Regions from separate parts of the Homo sapiens genome. Here region 2 is linked to region 1. The links come from fine-mapping of genetic effects on gene expression. Tissue or cell type: monocytes. Region 1 holds a variant in brackets; the other region holds the start of a gene. All regions are shown on one strand. Distances are between the middles of the regions.

Region 1 (8,102 bases):
ATCATGCCCAGCTAATTTTTGTATTTTCATAGAGATGGGGTTTCACCATGTTGGCCAGGCTGGTCTCGAACTCCTGACTTCAAATGATCCGCCTGCCTCAATCTCCAAAAATGCTGGGATTGCAGGAGTGAGCCACCGCACCTGGCCTAGATTGTTCTTGTAGGTTCCAATTTGTCCTCTCTGTCCCGGTTCAGTTTCTAAATTGCCCAGCAGACTGGCCTACAGAGACTTAAAACCCAATACTAGTCACAGAAAAAAAAACTTTGATACACCCCTCCTCCAGCAACCCTAGCGCTCCCTGGTTAGTAATTTTTTTTTTTTTTTTTTTTTTTTGGAGATAAGGGTCTCTCTATGTTGCCCAGGCTGGTATCAAACTCCTGAGTTCAAGTGATTCTCCCACCTCGGCCTCCCAAAGTGTTGGGATTACAGGCCTGAGCCACCACGCCCAGCCTCAGTAACTTTTAAACAAGATCTCGCCATCCCTATATTATTATTATTATTTTGCCATCACGAATATAGTTTATTTTTAAATTTTTAATTTTTAATTGTGCGGGTACATGGTAGCTGTATATATGTATGGGGTTCACAAGATATTTGATACAGGCATGCAATGAGAAATAATCACATTGTGGAGAATGAAGTCGCCATCCCCTTAAGAACTTATCCTTTGTGTGACAAACAATCCAATTACATTCATTTAGCTATTTTGAAATGTACTATTATTATTAACAATAGTCATCCTGTTGTGCTATCAAATAGTATGTCTTATTCATTCTTTCTATTTGTGTTGAGTATTGTACCCATTAACCATCCCCACCTCCCCCATCCATCCCGCCGACGACCCTTCCCAGCCTCTGGTAACCTTCTGTCTATATGTTAAAAAAAAAAAAAAAACTGCTTTTTTTGTTTTGTTTTGTTTCGAGATGGAGTCTCACTCTGTCGCCCAGGCTGGAGTGTAATGGTGCGATCTTGGCTCACTGCAACCTCTGCCTCCCAGGTTCAAGTGATTCTCATGCCTCAGCCTCCCTAGCAGCTGAGATTACAGGCACGCGCCACCACGCCTGGCTAATTTTTGTATTAGTAGAGATGGGGTTTCACCATGTCAGCCAGGCTGGTCTGGAACTCCTGACCTCAAGTGATCCACCCGCCTCGGCCTCCCAGAGTGCTGGGATTACAGGCGTGAGCCAACATGCCTGTCCTCGTTCAATTGTTTTGATTATTTTAATTCCCACAAATAAATGAGAACATGCCGTTTGTCTTTCTGTGCCTGGCTTATTTCACTTAACATAATGACCTCCAGTTCCATCCACGTTTTTGCAAATGGCAGGATCTCATTCTTTTTCATGGCTGAATAGTACTCCATTGTGTATAAGCACCACATTTTCTGTATCCATTCTTCTGTTGATGGACACTCAGGTTGTTTCCAAATCTTCACTGTCGTGGACAGTGCTGCAAAAAATATGGGAGTGCAGAGATCTCCTTAATCTACTGATTTCCTTTCTTTTGGGTATATACCCAGCAGTGGGATGGCAGGATCAATTTTTAGCTTAATTTTTAGTTTTGAGGAACCTCCAATTTACATTCCCACCAACAGAGTATGAGGGTTCCCTTTTCTCCACCAGCATTTGTTCTTTGCTGTCTTTTGGATATAAGCTTTTTTTTTTTTTTTTGAGACGGAGTTTCACTCTTGTTGCCCAGGCTGGAGTGCAATGGTGCAATCTCGGCTCACTGCAACCTCCGCCTCTCAGGTTCAAGCAATTCTCCTGCCTCAGCCTCATGAGTAGCTGGGATTACAGGCATGCTCCACCACGCCTGGCTAATTTTTTGTATTTTTGGTAGAGACAGCGTTTCTCCATGTTGGTCAGGCTGGTCGTGAACTCCCGACCCCAGGTGATCTGCCCGCCTCAGCCTCCCAAAGTGCTGGGATTACAGGCGTGAGCAATTGCATCTGGCCAGATATAAGCTATTTTAACTGGGGTGAGATGGATATCTTTATCTTATTTTAGTTTTGACCACCATCCCTTTCTGGGTCCTCACCTCCCCAGATTCACCCCCAATTGTCTAAGATCCAATCACATAATGTTTCTTATCCCACGTGGCTCATAGCAGACCTCCTTCTGCTTAACACGGACCAATCCTGAACAACCATGACTCTTCCTTTATAAACATCAGTTGCACTAACATACTACTTTTCAGGTTTTCCAGTAGAGAGAAAACAAGGGAAGTGTGCCCTCTCATTTAGGGGTTTTAGGAACCAGCTCTTCCACAGAGATTTCTTTTAAGTCTAATTTTGTCATAAAAAATTTTGCATTCGAGCCGGGCGTGGTGACTCACACCTGTAATCCCAGCACTTTGGGAGGCTGAGGCGGGTGGATTACCTGAGGTCAGGAGTTCGAGACCAGCCTGGCCAACATGACAAAACCCCATCTCTGGTAAAAATACAAAAATTAGCCGGGTGTGTTGGCACACACCAGTAATCCCAGCTACTTGGGAGACTGAGGCAGGAGAATCACTTGAACCTGGCAGGTGGAGATTGCAGTGAGCCAAGATTGCGCCACTGCACTCCAGCCTGGGTGACAGAGTGAGACTCTGTCTCAAAAAAAAAAAAAAAAAAAAAATTCACATTCGACTCCATGACATGACCATTTTAATACAAAGATGAGTTTTCCTTCCAAAGATGAAGTAAAATTGTTGATCCAAAATATTTGCCACGAGTTTATGAATCCTTGACACGCCATTGCATATCCCTGGGCTTATGCATGTTCCCAATTGAGAAGCAAGGGAAGAGAATGGTTCATTTATTTGATCCACCAGGATTTACTGAGAAGTGTCCTTGTTCTAGGCTTGGGTAACGTGCTGGGCATACTTGAGTGAGGGAGACAGGCTCTGCTTTGAGGAGCTCAGTCCAGTGGTTACGACAGGCTGGCTCAGTCTGTTTACAGGCAGGGAGAGAAGCCCTATAATTACTACGATGTGTTCCGATCCTGGTGTGGGGTGTAGAATACAGAATATATCAAGTGGGCTTAGTTTTCCTGGAACATGTTTTGCTAGAGTTTAAAGAGAGAACCGCATAAAGTCCTTTGGCGGCCCTGAGATACCTGACTGACATAATTACTGTATCAGTAACCTTTTTATTAATTCACTCTTCAACGTCTCTGATTAATTCTCCATAAAGGAATTCATCTGTCTGGTCTCATCTGGGAAGGCTTCCCGCAGGAGGTGACATTTGAGAGAAATCTTGATGGATGCATATAATAACCACAAATAATACTATTTTAAAAAGTAATAACTGCTAACTTTTGCATAGGGCATACTAAAATATTCTAAGCCTTCTATGTGTACTAAGTCATCTAATTTTTACAACAGTCCATGAGTTAGATGTTTTATTGATTCAATCATTTATTCATTCAACAAGTATTTATTGAATAGTTCCTGTATCTTATAGTCAGGAAAACTGAGGACCAGAGAGGTTAAATCACTTACCTGGGGCCACACAGCTAGTGAGATTTTTTTTTTTTGAGATAGGGTCTTGCTCTGTTGCCCAGGCCGGAATGCAGTGGCGCAATCATGGCTCACTGCAGCCTCAACCTCCCAGGCTCAAGCAATCTTCCCACCTCAGCCTCCTGAGTAACCGAGACTATAGGCGCATGCCACCACACCTAGCTAACTTAATTTTTTTTTTTTTTTTTTTTTGTAGAGACAGAGTCTCACTATGTTGCCCAGGCTGGTCTCAAACTCCTGAGCTCAAGCAATCCTCCTGGCTCAGTCTCCCAAAGTGCTGGGATTACAGGTATGAGCCATTATGCCTGGCCAAATGAGTTTTGTTTTTTTTTTTTGGGGGGACGAACTCTCGCTCTGTGGCCCAGCCTGGAGTGCAGTGGCGCGATCTTGGCTCACTGCAACTTCCGCCTCCCGGGTTCACTCCATTCTCCTGCCTCAGCCTCCCGAGTAGCGGGGACTACAGGTGCCCGCCACCACGCCTGGCTAATTTTTTGTATTTTTTTTAGTAGAGACGGGGTTTCACCACGTTAGCCAGGACGGTCTCGATCTCCTAACCTCGTGATCCGCCCGCCTCAGCCTCCCAAAGTGCTGGGATTACAGGCGTGAGCCACCGCGCCTGGCCTTTTTTTTTTTTTTTTTTTTTTTTTTTTTTTTGAGACGGAGCCTCGCTCTGTCACCCAGGCTGGAGTGCAATGGCGGGATCTCAGCTCACTGCAACATCCGCCTCCCAGGTTCAAGTGATTCTCCTGCCTCAGCCTCCCGAGTAGCTGGAATTACAGGTCCCCACCATTACGCCCAGCTAATTTTTGTATTTTTGGTAGAGAGGGGGGTTTCTCCATGTTGGCCAGGCTGATCTCGAACTCCTGAGCTTAGGTGATCTGCCCACCTCGACCTCCCAAAGTGCTGGGATTACAGGCATGAGCTACCACGCCTGGCCGAGATTTTTACAATTTGATTTAGCTTAATTTTTTTCCATGAATTTTCTGTTTGTATCTTTTACCCATTTTTATTAAAAAATGGGGTTTCCTTTTTTGCTGAAGAGTAAAAAAGCTTTACAGATAAAGGAAATTAGCATATTATCACACCACATGTAATAGCTTAGTTACTTGTTTTTTGTTGGTGGCTTTTTTTTTTTTTGAGATGCAGTCTCATTCTGTCACCCAGGCTACAGTGCAGTGGCCGATCTCAGCTCACTGCAAGCTCCGCCTCTCAGGTTCATGCCATTCTCCTGCCTCAGCCTCCCAAGTAGCTGGGACTACAGGCGCCTGCCACCACGCCTGGCTAATTTTTTGTATTTTTAGTAGAGACGGGGTTTCACCATGTTAGCCAAGGTGGTCTCGATCTCCTGACCTCTTGATCTGCCTGCCTCAGCCTCCCAAAGTGCTGGGATCACAGGCGTGAGCCACCGCGCCTGGACGATGGAGTTTTTTTTTTTTTTTAAATAATCTATATATATATATTTATTATTATTATTTTATTTTTGAGATGGA[A/G]TCTCACTTTATTGCCCAGGCTGGAGGGCAGTGGTGTGATCTCGGCTCAATGCAACCTCCGCTTCCCAGGTTCAAGCGATTCTCCTGCCTCAGTCTCCTGAGTAGATGGTATTACAGGCGTGAGCCACCACGCCTGGCTATTTTCTTCGTATTTTTAGTAGAGTCAAGGTTTCACTATGTTGGCCAGGCTGGTCTTGAACTCCTGACCTCAAGTGATCCACTTGCCTCAGCCTCCCAAAGTGCTGGGATTGCAGGCGTGACCCACCGCGCCCGGCCTTGGCTAAGTTACTTGTTGGTTAGAGTCTAGGTTCTGGGGATAGAGCAATGAATGAGATGGACAAAATCCCCTGATTTCCAAAAGCTGACACTGTATTGGGCCGACAGAGCAGGGACAAATAAATAAGATATATAATATGTCATGTGGTGATCAGGATTGGTTACGGGGAAAAATAAAGCAGGAAAGACAGAGAAGGGCCAGGACTCACGCCTGTAATCCCGCCACTTTAGGAGGCCAAGGCAGGAGGACTACTTGAGCCCAGGAGTTTGAGACCAGCCTGGGCAACAAAGTGAGACCCCAGGCTGCAGTGAGCTATGATGATACCACTGCACTCCAGCCTGGGAGACAGAGTGAGATCCCATCTCAAAAGAAAAAATTAAATTAAAAAGACAGACAGAGGGCCGGGCATGGTGGCTCACGCCTGTAATCCCAGCACTTTGAGAGGCCGAGGTGGGCGGATCACGAGATCAAGAGATGGAGACCATCCTGGCTAACACAGTGAAACCCCGTCTCCACTAAAAATACAAAAAATTAGCCGGGCATGGTGGCGGGCGCCTGAAGTCCCAGCTACTCGGGAGGCTGAGGCAGGAGAATGGCGTGAACCCGGGAGGCGGAGCTTGCAGTGAGCCGAGATCGCGCCACTGCACTCCAGCCTGGGCAACAGAGCGAGACTCTGTCTCAAAAAAAAAAAAAAAAAAAGAGAGAGACAGAGCGAGAGAGACAGGCATAGAGAGTGTGTATTGGGAGAGGATGTTATAATTTACAGTGTGCCAAGTAAAGGTTTCATGGAGGTGACATTTGGAGCAAAGACCTGAAGGAGGTGAGAGAGCCACCTTGTGAACATGTGAGGGAACTGTGTTCCAAGCAGAAGGAACAGTCAGTGCGGCCGGGCACGGCGGCTCACGCCTGTAATCCCAGCACTTTGGGAGGCCAAGGCGGGTGGATTGCCTGAGCTCAGGAGTTCAAGACTAGCTGGGCAACATGGTGAAATCCTGTCTCTACTAAAATACAAAAAATTAGCCGGGCGTGGTGGCGGGCGCTTGTAGTCCCAGCTACTCGGGAGGCTGAGGCAGGAGAATGGCTTGAACCTGGGAGGCGGAGCTTGCAGTGAGCCGAGATCCCGCCACTGCACTCCAGCCTGGGTGACAGAGCGAGACTTCTTCTCAAAAAAAAAAGAAAAAAAAAAAGTCAGTGCAAAGGCCCTGAGGCTGGAGCCTGCCTGGTGTACTTGAAGAACAGCAGAAACCCGTGGTGCCTGGCAGCAGAGGGAGCAAGGGAGTGTTGAGAAGAAAGCCCAAGAAAAAGCAGGCCGCGCAAGAGAGGAGGTGACAGCCAGATCTTACAAGACCTCAAAGCTCCTGGTGGGGACTTGGGACTTTTCTCTGGGTGAGATGGAACACCCAAGGTGGGGAGGTTTGATGAGGTAACTGAGGGCGTTATAGGAGTTTGCCAGTCAGGAATGATGTTGGAGTAGGAGGATGTAGGTTTCTGAGAGTTGAAAAGGAACAATTAATCCTTCACACAGCAAATGTATATATTTATACATTTAACTCTGGCTCTGTTCCAAACCTTGTGTTAACAGTGAGCCCAATAGCTATTAATACAAATAGAATGTAATGCCAGGAATTTAGCCACTCATAACTTACATGAGTTATGAACTTTTTTTTCTTTTTGAGACAGGGTCTCTCTCTGTCACCCAGGCTGGAGTGCAGTGGCGTCATCCTGGCTCACTGCAATCTCTGCCTCCCGGGTTCAAGCCATTCTCCTGCCTCAGCCTCCCAAGTAGCTGGGATTACAGGAGCACACCACCACACCCAGCTAATTTTTGTATTTTTAGTAGAGATGGGGGTCTCAACATGTTGCCCAGGCTGGTCACGAACTCCTGACCTCAGGTGATACACTTGCCTCGGCCTCTCAAAGTGCTGGGATTACAGGCGTGAGCCACCACGCCCTGCCTGAGGTGTCGTTTTTGACATTTAAATCTGCAATCTAGGCTGAGGATGGTGGCGCACGCCTGTAATCCCAGCTACTTGGGAGGCTGAGGCAGGAGAATCGCCTCCACCCAGGAGGTGGAGGTTGCAGTGAGCCGAGATGATGCCACTGCACTCCAGCCTAAGTGACAGAGTAAGACTCTCTCTCAAAAAAAATTAAAAAAAAAAAAAATAAATAAATAATAAATCTCCAATCTACCTCTAACTTTATACCTTTCCAGATGGCTATTGAGTGTCTTAGTTTTATGGAGAAAAGTCCATCTCGTTTTCAATGATATGAAATTCCACTGTTAAAATGTAAATTCCCAGCTGGGTATGGTGGCTCATGCCTGTAATCCCAGCACTTTGGGAGGCCAAGGCGGGTGGATTGCCTGAGCTCAGGAGTTCAAGACTAGCTGGGCAACATGGTGAAATCCTGTCTCTACTAAAATACAAAAAATTAGCCGGGCGTGGTGGCGGGCGCTTGTAGTCCCAGCTACTCGGGAGGCTGAGGCAGGAGAATGGCTTGAACCTGGGAGGCGGAGCTTGCAGTGAGCCGAGATCCCGCCACTGCACTCCAGCCTGGGTGACAGAGCGAGACTTCTTCTCAAAAAAAAAAGAAAAAAAAAAAGTCAGTGCAAAGGCCCTGAGGCTGGAGCCTGCCTGGTGTACTTGAAGAACAGCAGAAACCCGTGGTGCCTGGCAGCAGAGGGAGCAAGGGAGTGTTGAGAAGAAAGCCCAAGAAAAAGCAGGCCGCGCAAGAGAGGAGGTGACAGCCAGATCTTACAAGACCTCAAAGCTCCTGGTGGGGACTTGGGACTTTTCTCTGGGTGAGATGGAACACCCAAGGTGGGGAGGTTTGAT
Region 2 (8,102 bases), 59 kb after region 1:
GCCCACGCTCCCACACCCCGCCTGCCCCACTGCCCAGAGCACAGAGAGAGTACAGTGCTGAATTTCACTTTACTGGAGGATCCAGGTGACACAGGGCACAGGGAGAGAAGCCTAGGACTGCTACGGGAGAAGCACACCTGGGGCCCTCCCCACCCACAGGCAACACCACAGGCTGCTGTGCCCAGCTCAAGGTACACCCAGCCTGGTCCTCAGTGGGTGGGTCACTGTCCAGGGACAGCCTCCAAGCAGAGGGGAGCACCCACGCCCTGCAGCAGGTCTCAGTCAGCTTCTACATCTGGGTGTCCCTGACATAGGACTGGGACAGTCTGGTCTGGACTGTGAGGTCACACCCAAACCCTCCTATTCCTTCCCAGGGACAAGTGGGGCAGGGCCCCCTGGCACGATGGGCTCCTCACTGCCAGGGAATGGAAATTGGGACGAGGAAGCACACACATTGCCCCAGGGACAAGAAGGCATGAATGAAGGTGGGGTCCCGTGGAGACTGATATTTAGGTAAAAATCGAGCTCAGCCGGGGTTGCAGGAGCTGAAGCATACGGCACGGCACGGCACAGACTCACATACAACTCAAGCGTGCTTGGGACAGCAGGTTGTGAAGCCTCACAGCACCGGCCCGCCTACTCTGGAACCTCCAGGGCAGGGCTGGGGTTTCCTCCCCAGGTCATTTCATCCCCTGTAAGGAGGGACACGCGGCCGGCTTCTGCACTGCCCAGGTGAGCCTCTGTCCCTCACAGTGCCCTTCGGGGCCCCTCTGGCCTTTAATTCACTCAGGGGGTGAACCCAGGGACTTTCAAGTCTTTTAGTAAGGGCTGCAAGGCCAGCGCTGAGCGGTGGGTCAGCTCCACTGGAGAGGGGGCACCCAGGGGAGCCACAGCCTATGGGAGGGGCCAGGGCCCACTCAGCCCAGAAGAACCAAAACTGGATTTTAAGTGAATTACCCCAAATTGAACACCTCTGCAAATAATTAGAATGTTGGGAAACACTGCAGTCTGAGTGACAAATTCAACTTGTGGTCAGGGGCAGGTGGCCTTGGCCTGGGGCTGGTTCCTTTGTTATCAGGGGCGCCCCAGTAGGCAGGGCTGGCATGTGTCTTCCCTCTGCTCCCCCCTCCCCCTCCTCCTCCTCTTTCCCTTCTCCCACCGTTCCTCTCCCCTTTCCTCCTCCTCCCCTTCCCAACCGCCTTCTATCTCTCAGACTTTCCTTTCTGGAATCATCTCTTCCCCTGGCTGGGAGCTGGGGCCTCCCCTGGCTGAGAGTTGCGCCCTGACACGCGCTGCGCGGCTGGTGACTGAGCCTCCACCACAGACCCAGGGCCCAGTCAGACTGGGGTAGGGGCGACAGCGGCCTACAGCACCTGCCAGGCGCAGGCCCCGAGAGCGCCACGAAGAGCCCTGCTCGCCTCTGCAGGTGCCCGGCGTCCACACACACACCCCCTCCGGGGGCAACCCGGGCCCCCAATCCTGGTCCACTTGGCGCGTCCCCATCTCGGCCCTGCGCTGCTGCCTCGGGCGCCCACTTCTCTTTCCTCCTCCCATCCGGGCTTCCTCCGTCGGGATCGCTGGCGCCCCCGGCCTGCGAGGGCCCGAGAGGGGAACGTGACGCTGGCAAAACGCGGCCCGGGCGCGCTGTGAAGCGAGGAGATTGCGTCTGCGGAGGACAGGAAGAGGGGAGGGGAGGGCGGGGGCCACAGGCGGGCGGGTGCCCTGCGGGGCCTGCTCGCAGCCTGGGCGGCTTCTTGGGGGGCCACTAGCGGCATTTAGGGGGCAGCCTCCGGCCCCGACGGGCCTTCTTCCCGCGCGCGGCCTTGGATCCAGTGGGCGCCTGGCCCTTGGCCTCGCCTGCCCTGGCATGGGCCCCGGCGCCCGCGCTCCCCTTCTTCTTCCTGCTTCCTGCGGCGTCGTCCTGGGCCGAGCCCCGGCTCCCGGCTTTCTTCTCGGGAGTGACGCCCCGGCCTCGGCCTCGGCCGCCCGCGCGGGTTTTGCGGGCCCCGGAAGCGGTGGGAGGCGCGCCGGCCGGAGTCAGGCCCCTGGGGGCCGTGCGCGCCCTCTTGGCCCGGGGCTTCCTGGATGCCCTGTCCTCCGGCTCCGACGCCTCGCTCTCGGTGTCCTCCGACTCCTCCTCGGACTGTTCGTCCGAAGCCTCCTCCGACCCCTCGTTGGACCCCATGTTCTCCCGGGCGGCCAGGAGCGCCAATACCTCCCCCAGTTTGCCTTTGGGGTATTTGTACTTCCCGCCTTCCCAGGCGTTTTCTTTTTCCTCCTTCATCACCTCCGCCATGTCCTGGGCAGCCAGGAGCGCCACCAGCTCCAGAAGACCCCCTTCGTCCTCACGGTGCTCGCTCCAGCCCCCGAAGAGGCCACGCCCAGCCTTCTTCGCCTGGGGAGGGAGATCCGGCTGCGCCAAGGTGGAAATGCACTCCCGGAGGTCCCCGTCATCCCCGGCCTTGCGCAGGACCACGGCGTCCACCTCGCGGCCCGCCTCTTCCACCTTCACGCGGGTCCCGTTAGTGTCCTTGGACATGACGGACAAGACCTGTCGGAGGGGGTCTCGCTTGTCTTTCTCGTCGCTCCAGCCCAGCGACTCGATAACAGAAGCGATTTTCAACATCTCCTCCCGGGCCCAGGGGTCCGACGGGTCGGTATAGGCCACAATGGCCACGAACTCAGGATTATCCAACTCCTCTGTTTCTTGGTCCCCACTTTCCTGCGAGTCGCTCTCCGAAGTGTCGCTGTCCACCGGCTCCTCGTCCGGGGTGTCTCTCACAGCCAGCAGGGCCACTAAGTCGGGGACACCATTTTTGTCTTCTTTGGTGTTCAAGCGGATGGATTCGGCCCCAGCTGGCTCCTTCTCTGCCTCTTCTTTCTTCGATTTGTCGGTGACGGTGACCAGAGCCAAGAACTCGCGGGGACCGTCTTCTTCCCCCTCGGAGTTGCAGGGCGCCCACTGCCTAACCAGCTCCCTGGCAGCGGCCTGCAGCGTGGCGTACAGCGCGCTCTGGTCCTCTTCTCCGCTCAGGTCGCCCTGGTCGATCTCCTCGATCACGATGCCCAGGCTCTCGTCGGAAGAGTCCTCGGCCTCACTCCTCGCGGGAGCAGACGGCCGTCCTCCTCGGCTTCTCTTCTTGCCCTTCTGGGTCAACCTGTTGCGTCTGGTTCTGTTTCTGCGACCCCGACGGCCCCTCCTTGGGTTCCTGGCTGCCCCAAGAAGCGAGCCAGCCTGCCCTGTTACCTCCCCAGAATCCTGGGCCTGCGTCTCCGAAGCGGGAGGGGTGGGTGCCTCCCCGGGGGTCCCAGCCTCCGCGGCCTGCGTGGGCCCGTCATCCAGCAGCAGGCGTCTCATCTGCCTCAGGACCCTCGTGTCCTGCGCACGGTCCTTCCACAGAACCCTCCAGACCCCATCCTTGCCTGGGATCTCCCTGGGAATGGCAGCGTGATTGACGTCCTCCACAAACTCCACCAGGGCGGCCTGGGCCTTCTCGTTCATCAAAGCCTTCATGTGTCGCAACCTGAACGTGCCCAGGGGCAGGAGGGTCGGCTGCAGGACGGCTTCGACGTCTGCCTGCTCCAGGCCCTCCGGGATGCCGGTGACCAGCAGGGCCCTGTGCGCGTCCACGTCCAGGCTCCGGCACCAGTCCTGCAAAAGGCTCATGGCCATGGTGCAGCCCCCTTGGCGCTGATCTTGGGGCAGCAGGGAGCCCGAGATAGGGGTGGGCTGCAGCGCACGGTGTCAATGCAACCCTAGAAAGCCACTTGCAGGGCTTAGAGTCCCGGTTCCGGTGAATGTGGCAAGGCTGGAGTGGGGCTCGGGGCTCGGGGGCTCTAGCTGCCTGCTGGCCGGCTGGACGCAGTGACCTTCCCCCGGGACCCCTCTCCAGAGCTGTCTGAGGATCCGCGGGGGGCTTACGTGTCTGCTTTCCAGGACAGCTCCCTCCCTCTCTCCCTGACACAGGCCTGAGTGACTCGGCACCGCAGCCAGGTGCAGGGGGGCGGCGCCGAGTGCACCTGGAGAGGCGTGGGAGGTAGCAGCCGCAGCTTGCCTGGCGCTCGCGCCGCGTCTGAGCGCGCACCCTGGGCCTGAATCTCAGCAGTTCCGCTGCGACGCGGCTGCTCGCGCGTGCGCCTGCGCAGAGGGAGCCGCACACCCTCCCCTGTCCCCCGCCCAACCGTCTCCATGGCAACGGTGCAGCCTTGAGCTGGGGTCTGCGTCGCTGTGGCCTGAGACGCTTTTCTTAAAGGTCCCGATGACAAGGACTTGGGGCCTGGAAGCACCACTTTCATTAACCAGCAAAAAACAAGGCCGAAACCACAGAGGGCCAGAAATCACTCAAGGATACCCGACCTCATTCAGGGGATAGAGGCCTCCTTCCAGAGGGTACCGGCATCACTGGGGGTTACAATTCCCCCTTCCAGGGGCCAGGTGGAATTCAGGATTATATAGGCCTAAATCAAAGGGCACTGGCCTTGCAGCGTAGGACCAGGACTTACTCGGGATACTGGCCTCATTCACAGTATATGGGTCTCAGTATCAAATAGGGGGGCCCAGGCACCACCTGTGAGCAAGACACCATTCAGGGTATATGGGCCTCACTTGCAGGGTACAGGCCCCACTCGATGGGACCGGCCCTCACTCCCATACACGTTCCTGTATTCTGAACTATGCATGCACAATAAATCCTGTGGTTTTGCACACGCTTTGAGCATATGTATGATTGTGAGACCAGGCATGAATTTTGCAAGAAAGCATTTCCCTTGACTGGGACAGCAGACTGGGGCGTGTGAACGTCAGTCATAGCTACTGTAAACATGCATTTGCTTCTCTGTCCCTTGTTGGCCATGAGGCTGTCCCCTACTCTATATGAATCTGGCTCTGTAGACCAGCTGGTAGGTTTATATCTCAACCATCATCCCTACCTCAAAGGGTTTTGTTTTTTTGTTGTTGTTTGTTTTGGAGATGGAGTCTTGCTCTGTCACTCAGGCTGGAGTGCAATGGCACAATCTTGGTTCACTGCAACTTCCGCCTCCCATGTTCAAGCGGTTCTCCTGCCTCAGCCTCCTGAGTAGCAAGGATGACAGGCCTCCCAAGTAGCTGGGATTATAGGCATACACCATCACGTCTGGCAAGTTTTTGTATTTTTTGTAGAGATGGGTTTTTACCATGTTACCCAGGCTGGTCTCAAACTCCTAACCTCAAGTGATCTGCCCGCCTCAGCCTCTGAAAGTGCTGGGATTACAGGATTACATGGTGAGCCACCATGCCTGGCCTCAAAGGGTTCTCATGAGGATTAAAGGGAATAATCCAGGAAAGCATTTAGAAGAGCAGCTGGCCCACAGCTGGTGCTCCATGAAAGATGGCTAAGAGAAGTATTTGTTGAGAACTTACCATTATAAAAGCATCTGTTTTGTTGGTTTGTTTTTGAGATGGAGTCTTGCTCTGTCGCCCAGGCTGGAGTGCAATGGAGCAATCTCGGCTCACTGCAACCTCCACCACCCGGGTTAAAGCCATTCTCCTGCCTCAGCCTCCCGAGTAACTGGGACTACAGGCATGCACCACCATGCCTGACTAGTTTTTTGTTTGTTTGTTTGTTTGAGAGAGAGTCTCGCACTGTCACTCAGGCTGGAGGGCAGTGGCGTGATCTTGGTTCACTGCAACCTCCGCCTCCCGGCTTCAAACCATTCTCCAGCCTCAGCCTCCCAAGTAGCTGAGATTACAGGTGCCCGCCACCACGCCCAGCTAATTTTTTGTATTTTTAGTAGAGACGGGGTTTCACTATGTTGGGCAACCTTGTCTCAAACTCCCAACCTCGTGATCCGCCCGCCTCGGCCTCCCAAAGTGCTGGGATTACAGGTGTGAGCCACCGTGCCCGGCCTAGTTTTGTATTTTTAGTAGATGGATTTTCACCATGTTGGCCAGGCTGGTCTGGAACTCCTGACCTCGGGTGATCTGCCGGCGTCGGCCTCCCAAAGTGCTGGGATTACAGGCACGAGCCACCGTGCTCAGCCCAAAGCATCTGTTAATAAACAAATAAATAGGAAACCAAAACACCTCGAGTTTTTTGTTTTTGCCACCAGGCCCAACCCCTTACTTTTGTGTTTGGATTTTTTTATGTTTAAGGAGAGTTTAACTGCAAGGTTACCACAGCAACTGGGCAAACCGCTTACTCACTCCTATTTTCCCCCACTTTTTCCTCCTCTGATCTTCCTGATCCACAGATGGATGTGATGTGACTCTTTTCTCCAGAGCAGCGTTGTCCAGCAGGAATAGAATGCCAGCCCCAAATTCGAACCGCACGTGCAATGTTAAAACTCCTAGTTGCAGCCAGCCAACACTGACCTCAGGTGGTCCACCCACCTCAGCCTCCCAAAGTGCTGGGATTACAAAGTGTCATTTTTGACATTTGAATCTCCAATCTAGGCTGGGCATGGTAGCGCACGCCTGTAATCCCAGCTACTTGGAGGCTGAGGCAGGAGAATCACATGAACCTGGGAGGCAGAGGTTGTTGCATTGAGCCGAGATTGCGCCACTGCACTCCAGCCTGGGAGACAGAGCAAGACGCTGTCTCAAAAAAACCAAACCAAACCAAACCAAACCAAACCAAAACAAAACAAAAAACGAGCTGCTTTTTCTGCATCTATTGATCTAAAAAAAGAAGAAATATGGTGACTCACCATGTAATCCTGTAATCCCAGCACTTTCAGAGGCTGAGGCGGGCAGATCACTTGAGGTTAGGAGTTCGAGACCAGCCCGGGCAACATGGTGAAAACCTATCTCTACAAAAAATACAAAATTTCCTAGGGGGCCACCTTCAATAAATAGAAAAGAGGGAAGAAAAATGAATTTTAAGAATAGATTTTGGCCAGGCGCAGTGGCTCACGCCTGTAATCCCAGCACTTTGGGAGGCCGAGGCAGGCAGATCACTTGAGCCCAGGAGTTTGAGACCGGCCTGGCCAACATGGCAAAACCTCGTCTCTACAAAAAATACAAAAGTTAGCCAGGCTTAGTGACACACATCTGTAGTCCCTGATACTCAGGAAGCTGAGGTAGGAGGATTGCTTCAGCCCAGGAGATCAAGGCTGAAGTGAGAGATGATCATGCTACACTGCACTCCAGCTTGGGCAAGAGAATGACCCTGTCTCAAAAAAAAAAAAAAAAAAAAAAAAAAAAAAAAAAAAAAAAAGGAAAAGGAAAAAGAAAAAGAAAATAAAGAATATATATTATTTATCCCGAAATATACAAAGTGTTGTCATTTGCACAAGTTGTCAATGTAAAACAATTATTTATGAGCTATCAGACACTCTCTTTTCATAATGAGTCCCTTTGGAGTAGCCGTATTTCAAGGGCTCAGCAGCCACACAGGGCCATTGGGAATTTGTTTGCAAGAATTAATTAGGGGGAGAGAGAGAGAGAGAGAGAGTGTGTGTGTGTGTGAATACACTCAGCACAACTGTTATTTATAACTGCAAGATTGGAAAACACAACAAAAAGAGAAACAGGAAGCTTGCACTTTGTGTGTGTGTGTGTGTGTGTGTGTGTGTGTATTTTAGAGTCAGAGTCTTGCTGTCTCCCAGGCTAGAGTGCAGTGGCATGACCATGGCTCACTGCAGTCTTGAACTCCTGGCTTCAAGCACCTCTCCCACCTCAGCCTCCAGAGTAGCTGGAACTGCAGCACACCACCACGCCTGGCTAATTTTATTTTTTGTAGAGATGGGGTCTTGTTATGTTGCCCAGGCTGGTCTCAAACTCCTGGGCTCAAGTGATCCTCCTTCCTTGGCCTCCCAAAATGCAGGGATTGCAGGCGTGAGCCATCATGCCCGATGAAGCTGACACTTTTCTAAGTCGTTGTGGATAACCACAGGTGAAATTCTTGTAAAAATGAAGATTCATATACCATATAACCCACCCATTTAAAGTGCACAACTCAATGGCTGTTAGTTCATTCAGAGTTGTGTGACCAACACCACGATTGATTTTAAAACATTTTCATCACCTCAAAAAGAAATCCCACACTGCTTAGCCATCACCCTCCAACCCTCTAATCTCCCCCCAGCCCCCGGCAACCACTAATCTGCTTTCTGTCTCTACGGAC

Evidence for each region. PIP is the estimated chance that this variant, and not a neighbour inherited with it, causes the effect.
Region 2: it holds the start of PNMA8B, and the variant in region 1 is fine-mapped to the expression of PNMA8B in monocytes (TOPMed, PIP 0.97).

Annotation. Positions count from the first base shown.
Region 1 is chr19:46,432,346-46,440,447 of GRCh38, forward strand. No RefSeq gene overlaps it. Among named protein-coding and RNA genes, the nearest start is that of PNMA8C, 7.5 kb to the left of the region's middle. RefSeq lists a silencer at 2,033-2,233. The variant A/G (reference allele first, on the strand shown) is at 4,992.
Region 2 is chr19:46,491,793-46,499,894 of GRCh38, forward strand. It overlaps PNMA8B (PNMA family member 8B), which reads right to left and starts at 4,075. Exons shown (of 1, transcript NM_020709.3): 1 at 1-4,075. The coding sequence starts at 3,673. The coding sequence ends at 1,766.